Regions from separate parts of the Homo sapiens genome. Here regions 1, 2, 3, 4, 5 and 6 are each reported to be linked to region 7. Evidence: microRNA targets listed by miRTarBase, many of them from high-throughput screens and not tested one by one. Region 7 holds a microRNA gene; each other region holds the end of a gene's coding sequence.
What was found. Region 7 holds the annotated microRNA hsa-miR-6512-3p (UUCCAGCCCUUCUAAUGGUAGG, at 1,344-1,365, shown strand). A microRNA usually pairs through its seed, bases 2 to 8, with sites in the 3' UTR of a target mRNA and lowers its output. Matches are read on the target gene's strand: a 7mer-m8 pairs with bases 2 to 8, a 7mer-A1 pairs with bases 2 to 7 and ends in A, and an 8mer does both.

Region 1 (3,333 bases), not on the chromosome of region 7:
GGCCGTGCCCTGGTGATGACTCGGATGGATAGCATTTCCGACTCCCGCCTCTATGAGAGCAACCCCGTGAGGCAAAGACGACCTCCCCTGTGCCGGGAACAGCATGCCAGCTGGGACCCGCTGCCCTGTACAACTGACTCCTATGGCTACCACTCCTATCCCTTGAGTAACAGCCTCATGCAACCATGTTATGAGCCAGTCATGGTACGGAGCGTGCCTGAAAAGATGGAGCAGCTTTGGAGGAATCCTTGGGTTGGAATGTGCAATGATTCCAGGGAGCATATGATCCCAGAACACCAGTATCAGACCTACAAGAACCTCTGCAATATTTTCCCTTCTAACATCGTCCTTGCAGTGATGGAGAAGAATCCCCACACAGCAGATGCCCAGCAACTGGCAGCCTTGATTGTTGCTAAGCTTAGGGCTGCACGTTGATATGACATAGTACTTATTTCTTTATACAAATATGAATATTAATACTAATAATACACTAATACAATAATTATAGTAACTAATAATTTGTGTTGCGCTTTACAAGTTAGAGTGTTTATATCATTTAAGCGCTTAACAACCCTGTGAGGTACGTCTTACTAACATCCTCTTTTATAGAGAAGGAAGGTGAAGGTCAGTGAAATTAAGTGGCTAGCCAGGGTCACACTGCTAGCAAATGACTAAGTCAAGACACACACCCAAGTCCTCTAAATCCAAGTCCCATGCCCCTTTGCACTGCACCATGCAGGTAATGGAGGACAAAACCCAGGGGGAGAGGTCTAGATGTAAGAAATCCCAGAGGATTCCATTACCAGAGTTTTCCTTTTTCTCTTTTCGTTTCTTTCTTTCTTTCTTTATTTTTTTTTTTTGAGACAGAATCTCACTCTGTTACACAGGCTGGAGTGCAGTGGCACTATCTCTGCTCACTGCAACCTCCACCTCCAGGGTTCAAGTGATTCTATGGCCTCAGCCTCCCAGGTAGCTGGGATTACAGGCGTGCACCACCATGCCCAGCTAATTTTTGTATTTTTAGTAGAGACGTGGTTTCACCGTGTTGGCCAGGCTGGTCTCAAACTCCTGGCCTCAAGTGATCCGCCCACCTTGGCCTCCTAAAGTGCTGGGATTACAGGTGTGAGCCACTGCGCCCAGCCTACCAGAGTTTTCGTAGTCACATATTCTATATTACAAAGTATGGATGATATATCCAATTTAGAGAGCAAAAGCATCAGGATCAGATCATATGTTGAATTAACCTTTTAGGTTTTTTCTAATAGAAATATTTAAAGCTATTTAAAAGTAAATGCATACTTTATTGCATGGATATCTGATCACTCAATCTATATTAATGAAACTATAGGGTCACATTGAAGCTTCTAGAACTATATTTTAAAGCTATTATTAGCAATTATATTGCATGTATGAATATATATATTTGGTTTGAGATGTGTGTGTATCTCTGTATAACCTTTTATATAGTGATAATGAGAGGGTAGGCTCTACACAGTCCTTCGTCTATAGCTGTATAGGTCACTAATCTGACTTGATGATTTTAAGTCACATTTCATAGTTTTAACTAGTTATGAGAGAGAAATTATATGGCAATATTTGAACATTGCTTTCTTAGGCACCAGAGCAAAGCAACTCTGTTTCCTTTGCACATTTTACCTGCCAACATTTATTAACAGTTCTTACCTTCCAAGTCTCTTCACCTTAGCAAATTAGGGATCAGGTTGCAGTCTTCTGCAGAGAAACTGATGGTTAAGCTCAAGTTCCAAGCATAGTATGTGTGTGCTACACAAGCTCAGAAGAGTTTGACAAGGACCAGGGGACTTACTACCACAATCCACTTCCCTTATCCCAGGAGAGATGGCCAAACCCATGTGGCATTAAATGGTGAATAAAAAAGCTTCACTCAAGGAGGGACTATTGGATGCTCTTTGGACTTCTGACCTATGCAGTATTCAACATCATTGGATGAAATGTAATGGAGGACAGTGCACAGCCATGTATCCACTTTCTCTTCCTGTCCACCCTTTGGGTAATAAGGTCAATCATTGGTGGAACAGAATTTCTCTAGGAAACAAAACCAGGGGATTTTATTTGTGGAAAAAGGAAGTTTCCAAAAGGGGATACTGCATCTTTACTAATAGCTGGCTCAGTTACTCACTTTAAATCCATGCAAAGAGTGCACTTGCTGTTAAATAATTGTTAAATGAGTTATTAGAAGGCAGGACTTTTGGTTTGGGCGACACCATTTGCGCAACTTGTATCTTGCTCAGGGTGGAAAACTTCATAGCTAAATGCCTCTAGAAGAGGTGTTTATTGTTTTTTTTAAGCTGCACTAAATGAATTCCCTTTTTGAATCCATTGTATATTTCAATATTTCGAACCATGATCAGCTCACTATTTCCTGAGCTGGAACTTGCTAACTTCTATGATCGTTTTTTCATGAAAGTTGAGAAGGCCGGGCCTTGGCCTTTTGTTTCTTCATGAGAAGGTGTGACACTGCCTATAAATGTTTCTTACTGTGAAACACTCTGAATGTGAGGCTGTAGTCAGGGTTGTTTCTGGTGGTTTGACAATGGCTTGCATGCTGCTTTCTGGCTTTCTGTCTCTGTCCAAGTTGATCAATACTGCATCTTAACCAATGTTTCACTTGAGTTAACCACAGCTTTACATTCTATCTCCTATCTTCTGATCTTCGTATACCCCAGCATATTGAAAAAGAGTAAAAGTATTTTCTATCAATCAGGTAGATCCACAGAGTGACAGTTGCCACTGCAGTGCTTGCTATTTCACACAAACACCATTTCATACCTTCAACTTCTTGGACTTTCTAAATCGGACTCGTGTCTAAATCAGGGTATTTGACAATCTCAGATGATGCTACTGCCTATGTGCCAGTTAGTTCATCTTCCTACCAAGATCATGAATGGCACCACACTATCCACTAGCTGTACAATTTACAGAGAAGCACAAGATTCATCTTGTCACCTACAATTCGTCTTGAACATGTTCATATTTAGTACTCAGAAACTGTGTAAGCTCCTCCCAATACAGAAAATATTTTTTAAGGCAGCATATGTATTTCTGATTTACTAAAAACGATTGTCATTCTCCTCTCATTCTTCTTTTTGGTATGAACCAAAAGCGGCTAGGAGCAATGCCTCAAATAACCAGAAATGACCTTTTGTTGATACAAATTGTATCTCTTTTTTTCCTGATTGTATAGAAACAAATGTACAAAACTCATCTGAAGCTAGGTTTGGCACTGAATTTTCACCATGAGGTTTGTGGCACTGTGTGTCACAGGGAAGTAGCTCAGGGGTTGTGAGGGAGCTT
Region 2 (3,000 bases), not on the chromosome of region 7:
GCCAAGTGTACAGAGATCTCTATATTATGTCTTACAATTGCATGTGAATTTACATTACCTCAACAGAAATTCTGACTAAAAAGAATTCAGGGGCCAGGGCTCAGTGGCTCATGCCTGTGATCCCAACACCTTGGGAGGTTGAGGTGGATGGATCTCTTGAGCCCAGGAGTTTGTGACCAACCTGGGAAACATGGAGAAGCCCTATTTCTACAAAGAAATACAAAAATTAGCTGGGAGTGGCAGCACATGCCTGTAGTCCCAGCTACTTGTGAGGCCAAGGTAGGACAATCACCTGAGCCCAGGAAGTAGAGGCTGCAGTGAGCTGTGATTGTGCCACTGCACTCCAGGCTGGGCAATGAAGTGAGACCCTGTCTCAAAACAAAACAAAACCAAAAAAAAGGATTCAAAAAAATACTCAGACTGGAGAAGATGAGGTTTTAGGAATATATTACCCAACTTATTTTGCTTACAATTTCTCTTTTTTTGTATCCACAAGTTATGTGATAAAAATCTTATGTTTAAATACATCTAAAATAGCTCTTCTAATAAGTAAAATTCAAAATAAGAAAGCACCATACTATAATTGATACCGATTTTTCTTTTCTAGTTGTGTGTGTGAAATAACAGGACATCTTACAATTAATGGCAACTTAGATTTGATGATCTATAGCAGGTGTTTGGAATGAGGTTGACTTAACAAGTCTATTTTGGCTCATGATGCCAGCCTTGGCACTAATCATCAAAATATCTCCAATAAATAGTGCAGTATCTTGTGGTGTAACAAGATAAAGGAGTCAGGAAGTATATGGTACTCATCCATGTTTCTGTTTATATATAGGATAACAAATTCAGGAACAATGGGAAAGTAATATATGAAACCTTAATAGGAAATACAATAGAGATTACAAAACACCACCATTTGATTTTTTATGCAAATACTTCAATATTCCAATATTTTTACTCACTTGCTAAATAAAGCACATGACTCGAAATGCTAAATAATTCTGTTAGTCTAAATCTTTTAAAGAATAAAATGTTGGTGAAAAACCAAAATTGTTTAGTAAGGTATGTATGACCTTGTTTATTATCTATCATAGACATCAAGATGATCATAGTTAATACCAATTTAAGCTTTACAGAATACTGTTTTAGGCCCAATATTGATATATTAAATGAAGGTATCAGAGAATCTTGTATTTATGGCATCAGGTTATAAAGATCTATTCAAAACCATTTTTGTCAAAGTTTAAACACTGGAACAAAAGTCAAATTGTTTCTAAATGAGACACAAAATGATTCTTGCTAATAGTACAAATTTTGTCCCATGGGTAATACTATTGTCTTTTTCTTTTTTAAAAAAATTATTTCGATTTTTATTTTAGATTCAGGAAACACATGGGCAGGTTTGTTAGCTGAGTATACTGTGTGATGTTGAGGTTTGGGGTACGTATGATCCTGTCACCCAGGTAGTGAGCACAGTCCCCAGTAGGTAAGTTTTTCAGCTCTTGCTCCCGCTCCCCACCCTACCTCCCCAGTGTCTATTATTCCCATGGGTACTCAGGTATTACTATTTTCAAGTTTTTTTCTTTACATGAAACTACTGAAAGCAAAAGTATGTCATGCTTATAGGTTACTCTGTACATTTATCATTCTATTAATAAACATCTTAAGTAATTAAGTAGTATATTAAGGCCATAAACCAAGTCATTATCTTCTATCAAAGGACTACTGTTATTCAATCATCTAGAAAATTCATTTTAGGCAGGACGCAGTGGCTCACGTCTGTAATCTCAGCACTTTGGGAGGCCGAGGTGGGTGGATCATGAAGTCAGGAGTTGGAGAACATCCTGACCAGCATGGTGAAACCCCGCCTCTACTAAAAATACAAAAATTAGCTGGGCGTGGTGGTGTGTGCCTGTAATCCCAGCTACTCAGGAGGCTGAGGCAGGAGAATCACTTGAACCTGGGAGGCAGAGGTTGCAGTGAGCTGAAATTGCGCCACTGCACTCCAGCCTGGGCAACAGAGAGAAACTCTGTCTTAAAAAAAAAGAAATTCATTTTAATGGGTTACGTTACAGGGTTGAGGTCAGCCTACAGACACAAAATAGGTTAACTGGAATTTTTTTTTTTTCGTATCAGGTTTTAATTTTTTCATTGGAACAGGATTTGGGGGTGGGGATACTAAATGTGGCAGGGTTCAACAAATTTACATTTTATCAAAATAAGGTTCTTAAAGAATACAATGATAGCATATGCTTTAACTCTGGTAGCACAAACCCTCATTAATTGATGGTCACAGAAAAATACTGTAATGCTTTAAACAAAAGTTTTAAATTACATCAATGACACAAGTTTCAAACAAAATGCAGTGATCAAAATACTTAACTGTCCTTTCATCAAGCTTTTACAAACACAATCAGTCTTCGCTGTCTGAGGAAATCAGTTTTAGTTTCTTCATGGTCCTCCATCTGTCTTTTAACATGACACTTGTCCGGTTGTTGAATTTATAATGCAACAGTATTTTAGACCAGTTTCCCTCTCCATATTTCCTCACGCCAGATCTCAAATTCTTGTCTTCTTCCCAAAGCCATGCCTTTTGATAAAAAGTAAAACAGTTATTTACAGAAACAATTATTCAAAAAGAAAATACCTACTATAAATGCCAGTTTTAAAAAATCAAAATAATGCTTAGTTTCTTAAAGACGGAAGACTTCTCTAAACATTTCTTAGATTTTTAAAAGATTTTACATTTATCGTAACATTTTTAGGGGTCATTATTATTACTGTTCATTTTATGTAAGCTCAGCTGCCCAAGATCAGATAGCTAGAAAGTGGCAGTGCTACATGTCAACTGAATTTGTCTGACTTTAAGCCCACACTGTCTCTTAAAATGCTCTTCTACAATTGTTAATAGTTGTATTTATTATCCTCCAAATCTCCAAATAGGCTTTGTGAATGTTTAGTAGTTCACTAATGAACTCAGTGAAAAACCTGTTCTGC
Region 3 (3,282 bases), not on the chromosome of region 7:
CTGTAGGGCGCAGCCACCTGAGCCTCTCCCTTTCCCACGTGTGTAGGTGATTGAGCTGGTGGACAAAGAAGATGTTCACATCTCCACCAGCCAGGTGGCTGAGATTGTAGCAACACTGGAAAAAGAGGAGAAGGTGGAGGAGAAGGAGAAGGCCAAAGAGAAGGCAGAGAAGGAGGTCGCAGAGGTGAAGAGCTAGAACCACTGGCCTGGGCACCTGTCCTCCTGCTGTGCCGTCACCCTGGCAAGGGCCGTGAGGGCGATTGCTTTGTGGTGATTCTCAGTGGCTCATCTAATATTTTGGCTGGAATAAATCAGAGACTTCCATAATCAAGTAAATTTTAATTTTCATCATTCCACGGAGATTCAGTCTGTCTGGAATCCCGGAACCCCTCCACAGAATCGTGTCTGGATCCACACTGTGGTGTGGCTGCCACGGCCTCCTGGCTCCAGAGGCAGCTGGGCTGGGCCAAGGCAGGAAGGCGCCCCCATGTGTGTGGCCTCAGTCTCAGCATCTGACTGTGCTGCCCTGTCCCCAGGGAAGAGAATGAGGACCACGTGGACTCCGCCCACACAGAGCTGGCTGCTGTGCCCACCCTCAGGGGCGTCAGGAGACACAGCCTGGCCTCCTCAGGGCTGAAGATGCCTCCATTCGCCTGTGGACCTTGATTTCTAGATTTCAGTGTCAATAGACCTGTCTTCCTGCACACTTTCAGTTGGATGTGGGTCATTGTGGAGACAGAGGTGTCTGCCATCTCTGTGGCCTCTGGAGAGTGACGTCTCCCTGCTGGGAGTGCTGGTTCTCACGTGCGGTTTCCCTTGTGTATCGGAGCTCTTTCTCGGCTTTCTATTTCCCCCAGTTCTTTAAGCAGTCAATTGGCACAGAGTTTCCCACGGGGGCTGCAGTGGATTCACTGTGTCAGGGATGAGCCTGGCTTGGGGGTTGGTGGGGCTCTGAAGCGCATTTGGGGTTCTTTGTAGCTTCTAATGTGAGGTTTGAGTCCAGTGCGCCCACAGCAGCATGCCCTTCTCACCCCTTGCAGTGTTGCAGGCTCAGGCCCCTGGGCTCCTTCAGCAAGCAGGCTAGTCAATGAGGCATGAGGATCCGGCACAGGGCATCCCCTGGGGCTTCAAGGGCAATACCCCCGTGCTTAGGGTTTGCCCTGTGCCCTCTGGGTGGGGTGGCCTCCCCGCACTCGGCAGCATGGCCAGGCTGGCCAGGGCGTGGGCAGGTGGTGTCCTGTGGCACCTCCATCCTCCTGCCCAGCCGGCTGTGTCACACTCATCTTTTTAAGGTCAGGTTGGTTCCTGGCAAAAATGTACCTCCAGGGGCCTCCAAGCATAGGATTTGGAAGACAGGAACGGCACAGGCGTCCAGGAAAGCAGCTGCACTCAGACAATGCCTTCTCCATTACTTGAAGCTTCTTTCTGTTCAGCCATTAAAGAAACTTGACAAAATAGGAACAGGAGATATTTCTCAATTGTAAACCTTTGTGCAGGGACAGTTGGCTTCCAGAGGCTTTCAGCTTTCAGTTATTTGAGAAGTTTGTTTTAGATCCTTAACTAATATTTATGAATTCTCTCACCCTGTGTAAGTAGCCTGGTGTTCGTTTGTCCAAGTGTACTTACCCTTGAGAACAAGTCTTGCAGTTGCCAGGTGTGTGCAGACGCCTCTCCTGTGAGCGGCATCGCGGGCCCAGTCAGCTGCCCCGGCTCTCATCCTCGTCCTCACTGCCTTGGCTGAGCACTGTTGACGTGAACAGCCACTGCAACAGGCAGCCCATCCCACTGTCCCCTCTGCCCTGGACTCCGCATGGCCTCCAAAAGCCAGCTTGCCCTCCGGGTGCTGCAGGGGCTTTGCAGGTGGGGAAGGCTCTGGTGGGTGCCTTTGGTGGCTTCCGTGACATCAGCCGTGCTCTGATGCAGGCTTGCTCCCTCGTCATTCTCCCTCGTCATTCTCCCTCATCGTTCTGTGTGCATTTTTCTCTATGTCCTGACCTTTCTTCTTGCACCTAAAAGTGGTGTCTGGGTGCAAATGTAAGCAGTGGTGGATCCAGAAATATGAGCTTTGTGTAATAAGCTTCTTAAAACAGTCCTTTCTTACACCTGCCCAGGGCCAGACCCTCGGTCTTGGCCTTTTTCAGGAGCTAGGATATCTGCGCCTGGTGAAAATGAAACGAATTCCTGATTTAGGAATTCAGTGTTTCCTCCTCACTCCAGCTAAGCACTCACTTTTTTTTTTTTTTTTTTTTTTTTTTGATACAGAGTCTCGCTCTGTCACCCAGGCTGGAGTGCAGTGGTGCGATCTCGGCTCACTGCAAGCTCCACCTCCCGGGTTCAAGCGATTCTTCTGCCTCAGCCTCCTGAGTAATTGGGATTACAGGCATGCGCCACCATGCCCAGCTAATTTTTTTTTTTTTTTTTGAGACAGAGTCTTGCTCTGTCTCCCAGGCTGGAGTGCAATGGCGTGATCTCGGCTCACTGCCAGCTCCGCTTCCTGGGTTCACGCCATTCTCCTGCCTCAGCCTCCCGAGTAGCCAGGACTACAAGCACCCGCCACCACACCTGGCTAATTTTTTTGTATTTTTATTAGAGACAGTGTTTTACCGTGTTAGCCAGGATGGTCTCGATCTCCTGACTTCGTGATCTACTCACCTCGGCCTCCCAAAGTGCTGGGATTACGGGCAAGTTTTTATTAGAGATGGGGTTTCATCATGTTGGTCAGGCTGGTCTTCAACTCCTGACCTCAGGTGATCCACCCGCCTCAGCCTCCCAAAGTGCTGGGATTACAGGCATGAGCCACCGCGCCCGGCCTGAACTCTCAGTTCTAACGCAGGGATTCAGGAATTGGGCTTTCAGACTCCTTCTGCAGTGTCACAGTCCAGACTTTTTTTAAATGAAGGACACCCCGCAGTGGCTCACAGTGGGTCCCAGGGCTAGCAGGAGCGTGCTGGGGAGCCGGCTCTGTCTTTGTTCGCAGTGGGTCCCGGTGCTGGCAGGAGTGTGCTGGTGAGCCGGCTCTGTCTTTGTAAATCCTTCAGGGGTCCTACGGCTGACTCCACCGGACAGCCCGTCCTGGGCCGTGTTAAGCACCTTTTGTAGAAATCGTATTTTTATTAAAACATCAAATCTGTGTTCCTGTAACAGTGCAGAGTAATAATATTTCTGAACCGTTGGGCACACAGGAGCGAGTGGAAGCCGGCAGAGCTGTCCACGTGGCTGCAGGGGCTGGGCCTTGGGGCGCGTGTGGCTGTGAGGCCAGTTCCAGAAGGAGCCTCACCATCC
Region 4 (3,000 bases), not on the chromosome of region 7:
GACTTGAGTCAATACCACACCTGAGCTTGGAGGTATCTGGGAAACTGCTTTGCCAGTACCTGCTGTAGGTATCAAAGGGCCTTGCAGGATTAGCCCTCAAGTTTTGCTGTTTTCTTTCTTCTATTAACAAAATTAACTGAATCAGCAAAAATGAGATTCAACAAATATAAAAAATTCTAAACTTTTAAGTGTCATAATTATGTAGACTCTTGGTCTATTTAAATGTCCTTATTATAAAGTATAAGTTGATTTTAAAGATGATCCATTGCATTGTTAGGTATATAAAATACATACATACACATTAACACCTTTTCTCACACACAGCCTAGAATGGGAAAGAAGGCTATTATCTTTAACTGAGCTTTTAAAAATGAAAAAGAACTTAGAAAAGGAATGGAATGAATTACAAACTTGGAACTGGAAAAGTTCCACCCACTTACTACCTTACACCTCTCCCTAACCTAATCCAAGCACCTTACAAGGTAGTCGGTATGCAGCCAACGGGGCACCTCTTCTGTACAGGAATCAGCATGCCTGACATTGGCAAACATCAGCTGTTTAAGTCACCACAAACACAATATCCAGTGACAACTATATGAAAAGACATTTTTAAAACCTTAAAACCATTTTTTAAGATTAAATGAACCTATTCAAAACACATTAATGCCTCTGTGCAACTTAATGCTGAGAAAGGGTTGCCAACATACACACTCAGCAGTTTTATTAATGTAGGTAGCTCTTGAATGGCCAAAGTCAAAGATACTAAAAAGAAAAAGACTCATCAGATAGAGAAGACATGAAAAAAAATCAGGGCTTCATAAGACAGCAAGCTTCTCTAGCTATGAAATTCAACACAATTCTAAATTTCTCACAAATCAAATACTTTTCTCCAGTCTTATCCAATCATCAGAAGTTCCCATGATATACAGCAAACCTTTAACAGAATGGGTAGAAGGCCTGTATTATCATGATTTGCATGAAAAAAGTCCATCTGGGCTTATCTAAAGAGATCTGAAACAACCTAAATGGAAAATTTTCAAATAAAAAGGACAGGGCAGCAGCTGTCCATACAAGCTGATTTTGGTGACAGAACCGGTTAAGGAAGCTGACTGAGGCTTCAACAACCAAGCCTTTTTTTGTAGAGCGGCCCAATGGAAAAGTCAAGTACACGCTGCACTATAATAATGGAGCAAGGTCACAGGCACTAGGTTGAAGCCAATGCGCCTGTCTCAGGCTTCACCTGGGAAAGGCAAACAAAGTCATTAAAACATTGTGGCTCTCACTTCTGAGACACGGAATAGAGCCTGACATGACATGGCAGGAGTGATACTACAAGCATTTAACTACTAGGATGGTGTTAATCAATCAGAATGAACGTCTACTCCAACAAGTACATTCACATTGGAGCATACAGCTGAACATCAGCTCTGGGTGTAGGGGGTGTGTGGGCTCTTCACAGATGCTGGAGCTGCTTCCTCCAACTGCAAGGCTGCTCTAACCTTTACATAACTCCATGCTGTTTTAGATCTTTCTGAGTCTGGTACCAAAGTGGTATTGGGGATGCTCACAGAGACACTGGGCTACTTTTAAACCATCTGTCCTTTGCTAATTACTCAACTCAGGGACACCCAAGCACACTGCATAGGGAAAAAATTTTACTGTAAAATTGGGATTGGGAGACATTTGTGGCTGATAACCACATGCAAATGCACCCAAACACACATGGACATACATATTCTTAAACCTTTCTATTACTGGAAATAATAGTTCGGCTTTCTTTGAATATGGAAGTACTCTGGGTAAGAAAGAAAATAAGAGTCATTTTCATCCTAATCATCAAATTACAGCTACAAGATGGAAAAAAAAAATCCTAGGCTTTTTCCTCCCGAAGTAGGATGGAAGCCTTGCAGGAGTGCTAGCAAGACCAGAAATGAAGAAGATGGTGAGAATTAGTAATACAGTTTGGGGATGCAAATGATTTTTTAGAGTTTGTAAACAAAAATTAACACTTGTGACATATCTCTTGTCCCATGGGCACATAATTTAGAATACATGCTCTCAAATGACAAAACATCAAAGGTGAGAGGAGGGACCAACAATGAACATGATCTTTTTTAAAAGGGGGTAACAGAAATAGTAATCTTTTATAATTATAAATCCTCTGCATACCATAAAATGATTTGGTTTAGCTTTCAAACATCATCTAAACAAACAAACAAGACAGAGAGGGAAGTTCACTGCTGGGGTTTGCAAAGAAGGGCATCTGTTCGTGGGCAGATGCTGCAGGGTGGCTGCTGAAAAGCTCCTTTTATGTGCATGATGGTGGTCTTCTCGGCTACAGTACAAGTGCTTGTGCATCAAGTATAAAATACAAGCCTTTAATCACATAGATCAGCTTTTTAGCTTTTGTAAATTTAAAAACAAAAAGGATAAATAAGGCACTGTACTTTTAAAAACGAAAACTGCTTGGTTCCAAGTTTAAAACCCAAGGAACAACCAGAATATAATATATAACTTCCCTTAGCCTCAGAGAAGGACTCTGCAAGTTCCCTTCTCCATCTGAGATGCATTTTCTGACATCTCAAATTACGGTGTTCTCCATTAACTGTAAATTTGAAAGGCTTGATAAGCTTATAAAAGCAGATTTAGTTAATGCAAAATAAAAGGTTACTTCTATAGAACAGTTTTACTCTTGGCTACCATCTTTCCAATCACTTTGCATCCAGCCGCCTCCGTTTGCTGTGCGAACAGTCCAGCTTTGCCTTCAGCTTTCGCTTTCTCTGAGCTGCACTGCTCTCTGGGGTTTTCGTTGAGGGTCTGGCCCGAGTCTTTCCACTACTCTGCTTCCTATTCGTGGCTTTCTGAGGCCTTGAAGAGGATTCACCGGCCCCCTTCTGTTTTGCAGGTTTCGTCAGTGTTTCCGAGGCAATAGACTGGGAAGGCCTTTTGTTTGTATTCTCTTTTTCTTTCCTGGAGGGAGGGCAGCTCTTCCCAGCGGAC
Region 5 (3,333 bases), not on the chromosome of region 7:
TCTATTTTCTTCCTTCCCTTCTTTAGAATCCTGGCCCTCTTATACCTCAGCCTTCGAGTCAACAGACTCCTGAGAGGAAACCCCGCTTATCTGAACACTGCCGGCTCTACTTTGGGGCGCTCTTCAAAGCCATCAGCGCATTTCACGGCAGCCTCAGCAGCAGCCAGCCCGCGGAGATCATCACTCAGAGCAAGCTGGTCATCATGGTGGGACAGAAGCTGGTGGACACGCTGTGCATGGAGACCCAGGAGAGGGACGTGCGCAACGAGATCCTCCGTGGCAGCAGTCACCTCTGCAGCCTGCTCAAGGACGTAGCGCTGGCCACTAAGAATGCCGTGCTCACGTACCCCAGCCCTGCCGCGCTGGGGCACCTCCAGGCGGAGGCTGAGAAGCTGGAGCAACACACGCGGCAGTTCAGAGGGACACTGGGATGAGGACTGTCTACCTCCCTTCCTCCTCTGCTCACCTCTCAGCTTCACACCCACAACTTGTGCAACTCTGCCCTATGGGAAAAGCCAGCCGGGGCATACACCAATGAGCTGAAACAGACCTGGTGCCCAAAGCTGGTAGTACCAAGTGGCTAAGCAACCCCAGGGCATTGACTTACCCCGCAGGGGGTCAGGAAAGAGAGTCAGGTATGAGGTAAAGACCTTGTGAAGTTTAGCATATATGGAGTATGCAGTATCAGCTTGAAGTGACTTCGCAGAAATAATATTTTATATTGATTAAATGTGTGCATGTTTTGTTTGTTTTTTGAGACAAAGTCTCACTCTGTCACACAGGCTGGAGTGCAGTGGCGCGATCTCAGCTCACTGCAACCTCCGCCTTCTGGGTTGAAGCAATTCTCCCGCCTCAGCCTCCAGAGTAGCTGGTACTACAGGTGTGCGCCACCATGCCCAGCTAATTTTTGTATTTTTTTTTAATGAAAGGTCTCACATATTTATTACTGAACCCAGCCAACCAATGCATTCATAACAGATTCAGAAAGAAAAAATATATTCCCAATAAAACATGTACAATTCTCCAGAGAGCGGTGACATTTTCAGCTTGATGTGGTAACATGACTGTGACCTTCAGACAGCATAAATATGTGTGCCCTCTCATGTGCAATTCCTTATAGGGCTAGCTTGGTTCTTCTTCAATGTCTCCTTTTGGAGTTGTACCTGATTTTATTACCAGTTTTCATCTGAATCCACTGGGGAGTGGGGCGATTTTGTTTTAATTTCTCGGTCAGGAATCACTTAATCCTGGAAGTCTTATGAGAAGACATGGCAAGAAGCAGAGTCAAGCACACACCACAATGGCAGAGAAAGGAAGAGCTAATTTTTGTATTTTTAGTAGAGTCGGGGTTTCACCATATTAGCCAGGCTGGTCTGGAACTCCTGACCTCAGGCCATCCCCCGCCTCGGCCTCCCAAAGTGCTGGGATTACAGGCCTGAGCCACCATTCCTGGCATGTACGTGTTTTAAATTCACTCATTTAACACTTATGTATTGGATGCCTACTACATGCCAAGTTCTAGGTGCTGGAGACATAGCAGTGTTTCAGAGGGCTTGCCCTCTTGGAACTTATGATCTAGTAGGGGAGTCAGGCAGTAAAGCGGTGAAGAAATACATACACAGTATAGCAGGTGCCAGGAAAAACGTAAGTAGGGGAAGTGCAAGAGAACTTATCTTCAAATGGTTAATTTTTATTGCATCCATTAGATAATAGAGTAAGTTTTTTGTTGTTTTGAATTGAATTAGTTCTGTGAGATTGGTACAAATTATGTATGTGTCTTGCACCCATAAATATATATTTTTGCTATGTTACTTTAACCTAAAGATAGATGTTATATTTACAACATAACATGATCTGTTGGGTTCTCTATTAATTTATTTCATACATTATAGATTCTGGGTTGATAAATTCTGCTCAATTTGAAAAATTTTATATTTTGTCTCAAATCTGTTACAATTTATATTGGTTGGTGCAAAAGTAATTGCGGTTTTTGCCGTAGACAGTAATGGCAAAAACCACAATTGCTTTTGCACCACCCTAATAATATTAAATATAATCATGACTTTAAACATCATTTGCAGCATTCTTTTTTTGGAAAAGTCTTTGATCTGTGTCACCCAAGTGAAGCCTCCGATGTTTACTTTTGTCACTCCAGTGCTTCTCCCTGAAGTCTGCAGAGAGATGGAGTAGAGGCCCTGCTCTTAGGCACCGGATTGGTGCTGGAAAACAAAGCCATCACCTGTGGTGGTGCAGACAGGAAGGCGTGGTGTGGACAGGATGCCCATCATTGGGCACAGATATGAAAGTGGCACAGAGCTCCCCTCAACTCAAACCACCTCCTCTTCCTCTCCTTGTAGCTGAGTCCTCAGCTCACGTTGCCATGGTTACATCATCACTTCATTTTAAGTGATGGTCTGGGCCTCCTAAATGCATAAACACCTCTACAGCTTGGAAGAGCATCTCCAGGCTGTAAGTCACCTGAAATGATACCAAGTCCAACTCCTATCTGCTACTCTTTCCTTGGTAGGCACTTGTAAAATGTTGACTGCTGGAGGCTGGTTATTTTTATTAAGTTAGTCTCAGGGTCCTTAAAAAAAGGATCCCATCTTTGTGAGGCTTGGTTCTCTACAACTGGACAGAGGCCCTCCAGGGGGCCTATTCTTTGAACAGCCATGATCTGCATCAGTTAGGACTTCTCTTACAAGGGATAGAAAATCATACCCAATCTGTCTTAAGCAGTAAAGGAAATTTATTAACTCATATGTCTTAAAATCATCCAGAGGCAAACTAGCCGCAAGGCTGGCTGGTTTCAGGGGCTCCAACAGTGTGATCCAGGACCAGTTTCTCGGTCCCACTTGCTCTGGGTTAACCCCCATGATTGCAAGGTGGTTTTCCCAGGTTACACTCTTCTTGATTCTTGGCCAGAGGAGAAGAAAAGGACTTCATTCGGCTTGGACTGGCTTAGATCAGGTGCTGCTCCTGAAAGCTCCATGATAAGCAGGGCATGGAACACCCAAGTTAATTTAGATCTGGAATTCCTACCCACCCCACACTCACTCTCCCATGGGTCCTGAGAGGTAACGGGATTGCTCTTTCAAGCACTGTGATGGGCCTGAGGTTTCATCTTTGAAATTAACAAGTTAACCTGTCACCATTTCATGGATGCAGACAGAAGATCTAAGATTCTGGGATCAGAGACTATGTCAGTGGTCCCCAAGACCACCTCCAGGTCCAATGAGTCACTAGGAAAATTCACAGGACTCAGAATACAGTCATATTCACAGCTGTGACTTACTACATTGAACAGATGCAAAGTGAGATCAGCAAGGGGAA
Region 6 (3,333 bases), not on the chromosome of region 7:
AGCGCCTCTCCCCCGAGGGAAACCCGAGGCCCAGAGGGGCCGAGGGAGCCCGTCACGAAAACTCCAGAAGTTCCTAAGCAGGGACCTGAACCAAAGGTCTCTGCCCACGGCGCGGGATGTAGTGCCGCCGCTCCACTTGAGAAAGGGGTCCCCACACGGGAGTAGGGCGAGGGGGTCGCCTCCCGCCGCCGAAACCAGTCCCTCCCTGAGTCGCCAAGTCCCGAGTCCCGCCCTCTCCCCGCAGGGCTCCCGGAGAGGACCTCCGCCTTCTCGCTTCGCCCCTCCGCCTCGCTCAGGAGGAGACCTGCCACGGCCCTGTCTGACCTGTCGCCGCTGGGACTGAGCCGGCAGCGCGAAGCCTCCATGCCCGCCACCGAGGAAGCCCCCACCACGTACACACTCTTCCCCGCCGTCGCTAGAGTGGCTAGGCTGGCACGCCGCCGCGTCCCGCCTCCTGGCAACCGCGTTCCACACTGTCGCCGCCGCCGATTGGTCCGTGTTCTCGTGGCTCCTGTCTCATTGGCTATTGCCGGGGCCCAACGATGCGGGAGGGTTGCTAAGGGGCGGGAGGCGAGCGGGAGTTAAACGCGCCTGCGCGGGGGTGGGGTGACGCGAGCTAAGGCTTGGTCCTCTGGAGCGCCTCGCGGGGCCGGTACTGAGCGGGAAGACTTTGTTTTTGCCTGGGCCTCGCCCGCCGCGCGGCCAGCAGGCGAGTCCGGTCAGAGGAGTCTCCTATACCGCACCAACCGCCACGCACGCAACGGCTCCTCGCACCCCCGCCATTTTTACCGAGCCCACCCAGAGCGCTTCCCGAGGTCTGCCCTGTGAGGATGTACAGACCTCTGCCGCTTCCCATTCTGGCCCCTGCCCTGATACCAGCGGCCTTCGTGGACCCCCTCTGGTACCCTCTCCACTCCATCAGTCACTCCCAGTGAAACGCATCTTCCATAGGCTGGCCTTGAACTTCAACTGCACAGAACTTAAGCTTCCCCTACTCCAGCCCAAGCTTTTAGGTCATTCCTAGACCTGCTCTACAGACTCCCCTAAAGCACACGAGGGAATCCAGAGACTTTAATTTTTTGAGACAGGGTTTCTCTCTCGCCCAGACTGCAGTGCAGTGGCCCGGTCTCAGCTCACCGCAACCTCCGCCTCCCAGGCTCAAGCGATTCTCCTGCCTCAGCCTGTGGAGTAGCTGGGATTACAGGCAGGGGCCACTACTGCCTGGCTATTTTTCGTATTTTTAGTAGAGATAGGGTTTCACCATGTTGGCCAGACTGGCCTCTTAACTCCCGACCTCAAATGATCCACCCGCCTCAGCCTCCGAAAGTGCTGGGATTACAGGCGTGGGCCCGTCCTGGAGACTCTTTCCATCTACCTTTCTACCTCCTGTGGGCCTTCCTCAAACATCCATAGCCCACCGTGAGAGCCCCTGTCTAAATGTGTACTCTTGTCTCCAATAAATCCCGTCCCCAAATGTCAGTCCCTTTCTCCCTACCGACATGCACATTATAGTCCCTACAAAACATCCTGAGTCCTGACAAGTCACTGCACAAATGGCTTTATGGCGTTCTAAGGTCAAAGTTGTTTCCACATTGGTTTTGAACCTACAAGTTAGTACTTTAGGAGGCACACGCTGAGAGTGGACCGTTACACTGCCTGGGTCAGCGTGCACTCACTGTGTGACCTGTGCATGGTTCATTCTCTGCATCAAACTCCCATCTGTAAAATATACAGTAATCCCTGCTTGATCTAGTTGGGGCTGGACCTGACACAGTAGGTCCAGCTGAATGAATGCTAAATGAATGGGTTTAATGAGATGCTACTTGTCTGAGTAAAAGGCCGAGACATTCGGTTGACTGGGGAAGTCCTTCTGCATTAATTACAATAAGTAATACTCATTGAAAACTTTCCTTATTTACACACAGTTGAACAGTTATTCTAAGAAACCATTTTCCCACCCTATTTAATATTGACAGATTTCTTCAGTTAGAAACAAAAACTCAAAACACACGCAATCCTAAAGAACTCATCTATGTCCCCCTTATCTCCCCTCATCTTATGTAGTCCCTAAAACAGGGCTTGCTGCCCTTTCTTCTTCTTGCCTTTTCAGCAGATGAGTCAAGGTTGCAGAGGTGGCAGTCAACCATAGAGTCACAGAGTTTGATTTTTTTCCATCCATCAGGTCGTAGAAGCTGCCACTGAGCCTGACAAGAGTTGGTACTCAAAAATGCAGAATGAATTAGTTTGAATGAGGTGATTAAGGATTAATGAGTAGTGGTTAAGGAAACAAAGACCATTAGTGGATGGGGTAATATTGCTGTATTACTGATGGAAGCAGGATTCTCTAAAAAAACTTTCTGCAGCCATTTACTTACATACATTTTAAAGAGTTACTACAAGATATTTTAAAAATTTAAACAGTTAATACAAGAAAAATATGAAGTGAATAGTTCATGACACTAAACTGAACTGTTCATGACACAAAGTATCTTAGAAAACAAATCTCGGCTGGGCCAGCACTTTGTGAGGTCAAGGCCAGCAGATGACTTGAGGTCAGGATTTTGAGACCAGCCTGGCCAACATGGAGAAACCACATCTCTACTAAAAATACAAAAAAATTAGCCAGGCATGGTGGCTGGTGCCTGTAATCCCAGCTACTGGGGAGGCTGAGGCAGGAGAATCGCTTGAACCCAGGAAGTGGTGGTTGCAGTAAGGTGAGATCATACCACTGCACTCCAGCCTGGGCAACAGAGCAATATTACATCTCAAAAACAAAAACAAAAACCCTAGGAATTGAATTCCTTTATGACTCCAGAAAACATATCTCTTTTCTATTGAGATTACTGATGGCAGTCAGCTTTTCACAAGGAATTGGCTTCTGCTCAGCTTCCCTCTCTCCCTGAGGTAAGCAAGCAGGTGCTGTCGTCTCCTCCATGTGACCTTTATTCCATACTTGTCCTCGGGGGTGTCTTTAACCAGAACAGGTCCAGGCTCTGGGCTATTAGGAGTGCCAGTGTGAAGAGTGCAGCTTAGAAGGCTGTTTTCCTTCTGATCTTGGGGAATGAGTTCTTCCTTCACAGACGATGACTCTGGGGTCTGGATATCAGGTGGAATGAACACATAAGGTAAGCTCTGAAGTGCCTGCACTGACATGTTCCCACAGCTTTGGGGACTGAGCACTGGAACTAAGGGTCTTCTGGAAACATCCTTTTCTGATTCACTGGGGCACTCTCGGATTAAGGGGATCCCCAATGTCTCTGAACTGGAAGATTGCGGACTCTCAAAAGTTAGATGTGGAAACTTGGAGGTGGTAGGTTTTCGACTTGAGTGTCT
Region 7 (3,329 bases):
TTTCTTTAACCCAGCTATTCAAATACTCTATTAGACCAGGACCTGTAATAATACAGGCCTTGTCCAGAAGGGATCAGGTTTCTATGTTATATAATTAGGCAAGACTTTAAATAGTAAGACATGCACCTGTGGTGCTTTTGTCTCTAACTCCACAAATTTCAACATGCATACAAATCAAGAAGGGGTGGGGGTGTTACATGCAAATTCTGCTTCAGTGGGTGTTGGAGCCTGAGATTCTGGCTTTCTAACAAGCTCCCAGGTAAGTGCTGATGCTGCTGCTTTGAGGGCCACACACCTTGAGGAGTAGGAAGAGTACTCATACTGGAAGAGTATTCAGCACGGACTGGAATCCTGCATACATATCTGAGCTCTGTGTTCTGGTATGTATATAGACTTTTTAAAAAAATTAGTAGAGATGGGGTCTCACCATTTTGGCCAGGCTGGTCTCAAACTCCAGGGCTCAAGAGATCCTCCTGCCTTGGCCTCCCAAAGTGCTGAGATTACAGGCATGAGCCACTATACCTGGCTTATATAGACTGCTTCTAAGGTCCATTCTAACTGTACAATTCCATGATTCAGTCACTGTTTGGCTATTAACTAATTTTTTTAGGCTTCTGATTCTCATTGTTTATAAGCTGCTATATTAGAGAATGTTCTGTACTGGAAGGCCAGATAAAAAGTCTTACTTATGGCCAGTAAGTTTTATTTTTCAATCTTCTACAAGTCTGCCTCAACCCATGGGAAATCTTGGCTAATAGTAACATGATACTGGGCTTGGACCATAAACTAAACTTGAGTCAGCAATGTAGGGCTTTGGTTAGATAAGCAAGAATGAACTTGGGAATATAACCAAAAGAAAGGGACAGCTAATCCTACCAGAACAGGCAGTATTTATATGAATACTTTTTTCAAATATCCACAACTGGGAAAAGCTGCTGAACACATAAAGAAAAGTTAAAAGCACGGCATTATTTAGCTAGTGAAAAGAGAACAAAGAATGCCTTAAGAATAATTTTTGAATGGCAGCAGAAACCAGCATATCCTGTGAAGTAAATGCATTTTCAGGACCTCAAAATAGATTTAGGTTGCCTCTAAAGCAGAACTTTCCCATGATAATGATGATCCTAGGTGGTAGGATTGCCAATGGTAATTTTCTTTCCCAAAGATTCTTACAACCAACCATAAACCTACTAGATAACCTATCAGTTGTGTTATTAACTGATATATCAGTTGGGGTTCAGTGCAGACACTTCTCTAGGTACTGAATGCTAAGAATTATATGCTTAAAAATTATATGCTCTTACCATTAGAAGAGCTGGAAGAAGGCTGAGGGAGATGCCTTCTTCCAGCCCTTCTAATGGTAGGAGCATTAAGAGGGATGCTGTTGGGCTCGCAGTTCAGTCCACACAGCTACAATCTAGAGGTCAGGAAGCTATAAAGTCCACTGCTGGCATCACAGTCATTTCTCACAGATGAAGTTAGTGGCAATGCAGAGGCACAGAAAGTCTGGTCATTAAAAACCACATTTAATGTTGCACGTACATCAACAACTACCAGTGAAAACTAATAGGCAGCCAGGCATGTTGGTGCATGCCTGAAGTCCCAAACATTTGGGACACTGAGGTGGGAGGATCCTTGAGCCCAGGAGGTCTAGGCTGCAGTGAGTTGTGATTGTGCCACTGTACTCCAGCCTGGACAGAACAAGAATCTTTCTCAAAAAATAAATAAATAGAGAGAGAGAAGGAGGGAGGGAAGGAGGAAGGTAAAAAGAGAGAGAGAGAAAGGAAGGAAGGGAAAGAAGAGGAAGGAAGGAAGGAAGGAGAAGAGAAAGAAAAGGAAGGAAGGAAGGAAGGAGAAAGAGAAAGAAGGAAGGAGAAAGAAGAGAAAGAAAAGGGAGGAAGGAAGGAAGGAAGGAAAACTAATAGGCAGGGGAAATAGCCTCTCTCTTCCTTTTACCTTTCTAATTTCGCATCATTATATCTGACTGGCACAGTTTAAATTGTTTAACAAATCCTATTAGCAGCTCAGCCTAGAATTATAGTTATTGAGCTTTGTTCCTAACTCAGTATAAATCTATCTTTATTGAAGTATAGCATACAGACAGAAAAATGCACAAATTATAATCAGAGAGCTTGATGAATTTTCATAAAGTAAACACACCTACATATTGCTAGCACCCAGATTGGGAGGCAGAAACTACTACCATACCAGAAGCTCCCTTCATTATCTTTTCTAGGCATTATCCTCCCTCAAATTGACTGTAATCTTGGCTTCTAATACCCTAGACCAATTTGGCCTATTTTTAAACATTAGACAAAATGGAATGATACAGTGTGTATTATTTTATTACTGGCTTTTCCTACTCAACTATTTGTGAGATTCATTCATGTTGAGAGTAATAATAGTATCTTCATTTTCATTGCTGTGTAGTATTCCATTGTATGAATATAACACAATTTATACGTTCTACCAAAGATGGACATTTGGGTTGTTTCCAATTTGAGATTACTGCAACTAGTGCCACTGTGAACATTGGTGAACACACACACACACACATATTTCAGTTGGATATATAAAAGTGTAATTTCTCTGATGCATGGGGTTCAGCTTGAGTAGTACTGCCCAACAGTTTTTCACATCTTCATCAAAACTTGATCTTTTCCATCTTTTAAATTTTAGCCATTCTCTTCAAAGACTAATGCAGTGTATTGAATCTCATTGTTGTTTTCATTTTTCTGATATCAAATAAACACCTTTTTAATTGTTTATTGGCCATTTGGGTACCCTCTTCTGTGAAATGCCTATTCATGTGTTTTGTGTGATTTTCTATGGGCTTGTCTGCCTTTTCTTGTTTTTATAGTCCTTTATTCTGGATATGAGTCCTTTGTCGGGTATATGTATTGATAATATCTTTTGCCACTATGTGGCTTTTTGTTTTTTGTTTTTTTTTTTTGAGATGGAGTCTTGCTCTGTCACCCAGGCTGGAGTGCAGTGGCGTGATCTCGGCTCACTGCAAGCTCCTCCTCCCGGGTTCACGCCATTCTCCTGCCTCAGCCTCCCAAGTAGCTGGGACTACAGGTGCCCGCCACCATGCCCAGCTAATTTTTTGTATTTTTAGTAGAGACGGGGTTTCACCATGTGAGCCAGGATGGTCTCAATCTCCTGACCTTGTGATCTGCCTGCTTCGGCCTCCCAAAGTGCTGGGATTACAGGCGTGAGCCACTGTGCCCAGCCCACTCTGTGGCTTATTTTATTCACTCTTTTAATAGTGTATTTTGAAGAAGACATTCATAATTTTGAATTAGTTTAGTTTATCAGATGTTTTCCTT

Region 1: miRTarBase lists ZC3H12B as a target of hsa-miR-6512-3p. Seed matches in the 3' UTR shown: 7mer-m8 at 887-893 and 7mer-A1 at 2,406-2,412.
Region 2: the mRNA of TERF1 is a reported target of hsa-miR-6512-3p. Seed matches in the 3' UTR shown: 7mer-m8 at 2,008-2,014.
Region 3: miRTarBase lists LETM1 as a target of hsa-miR-6512-3p. Seed matches in the 3' UTR shown: 8mer at 300-307, 7mer-m8 at 2,282-2,288 and 7mer-m8 at 2,448-2,454.
Region 4: miRTarBase lists LCOR as a target of hsa-miR-6512-3p. The part of its 3' UTR that is shown has no 7-base or 8-base seed match.
Region 5: the mRNA of CASS4 is a reported target of hsa-miR-6512-3p. Seed matches in the 3' UTR shown: 7mer-m8 at 782-788.
Region 6: the mRNA of RHNO1 is a reported target of hsa-miR-6512-3p. Seed matches in the 3' UTR shown: 7mer-m8 at 2,735-2,741.

The regions. Positions count from the first base shown.
Region 1 is chrX:65,502,775-65,506,107 of GRCh38, forward strand. ZC3H12B (zinc finger CCCH-type containing 12B) reads left to right here. Exons shown (of 10, transcript NM_001010888.4): 10 at 1-3,333. The coding sequence ends at 435. Among named protein-coding and RNA genes, the nearest start is that of LAS1L, 30 kb to the right of the region's middle. RefSeq lists enhancers at 1-38, 39-539.
Region 2 is chr8:73,045,554-73,048,553 of GRCh38, reverse strand. TERF1 (telomeric repeat binding factor 1) reads right to left here. Exons shown (of 10, transcript NM_017489.3): 10 at 431-2,593. The coding sequence ends at 2,417. Among named protein-coding and RNA genes, the nearest start is that of TERF1, 38 kb to the right of the region's middle.
Region 3 is chr4:1,811,338-1,814,619 of GRCh38, reverse strand. LETM1 (leucine zipper and EF-hand containing transmembrane protein 1) reads left to right here. Exons shown (of 14, transcript NM_012318.3): 14 at 47-3,141. The coding sequence ends at 196. Among named protein-coding and RNA genes, the nearest start is that of FGFR3, 20 kb to the right of the region's middle.
Region 4 is chr10:96,984,846-96,987,845 of GRCh38, reverse strand. It overlaps LCOR (ligand dependent nuclear receptor corepressor), which reads right to left. Exons shown (of 8, transcript NM_001346516.2): 8 at 1-3,000. The coding sequence ends at 2,712. Among named protein-coding and RNA genes, the nearest start is that of SLIT1-AS1, 120 kb to the left of the region's middle. RefSeq lists enhancers at 2,905-3,000, 2,601-3,000.
Region 5 is chr20:56,458,314-56,461,646 of GRCh38, forward strand. CASS4 (Cas scaffold protein family member 4) reads left to right here. Exons shown (of 6, transcript NM_020356.4): 6 at 27-2,069. The coding sequence ends at 434. It also overlaps the pseudogene RPL39P. Among named protein-coding and RNA genes, the nearest start is that of RTF2, 8.6 kb to the right of the region's middle.
Region 6 is chr12:2,887,980-2,891,312 of GRCh38, reverse strand. It overlaps RHNO1 (RAD9-HUS1-RAD1 interacting nuclear orphan 1), which reads right to left. Exons shown (of 3, transcript NM_001252499.3): 3 at 1,789-3,333. The coding sequence ends at 2,854. TULP3 (TUB like protein 3) reads right to left here and starts at 422. Exons shown (of 11, transcript NM_003324.5): 1 at 325-422. The coding sequence starts at 365. RefSeq lists a silencer at 527-576 and an enhancer at 847-1,026.
Region 7 is chr2:177,311,847-177,315,175 of GRCh38, reverse strand. MIR6512 (microRNA 6512) reads left to right here and starts at 1,294; the gene lies at 1,294-1,370. All of the region lies in intron 6 of LOC100130691 (Putative uncharacterized protein FLJ44553), which reads left to right.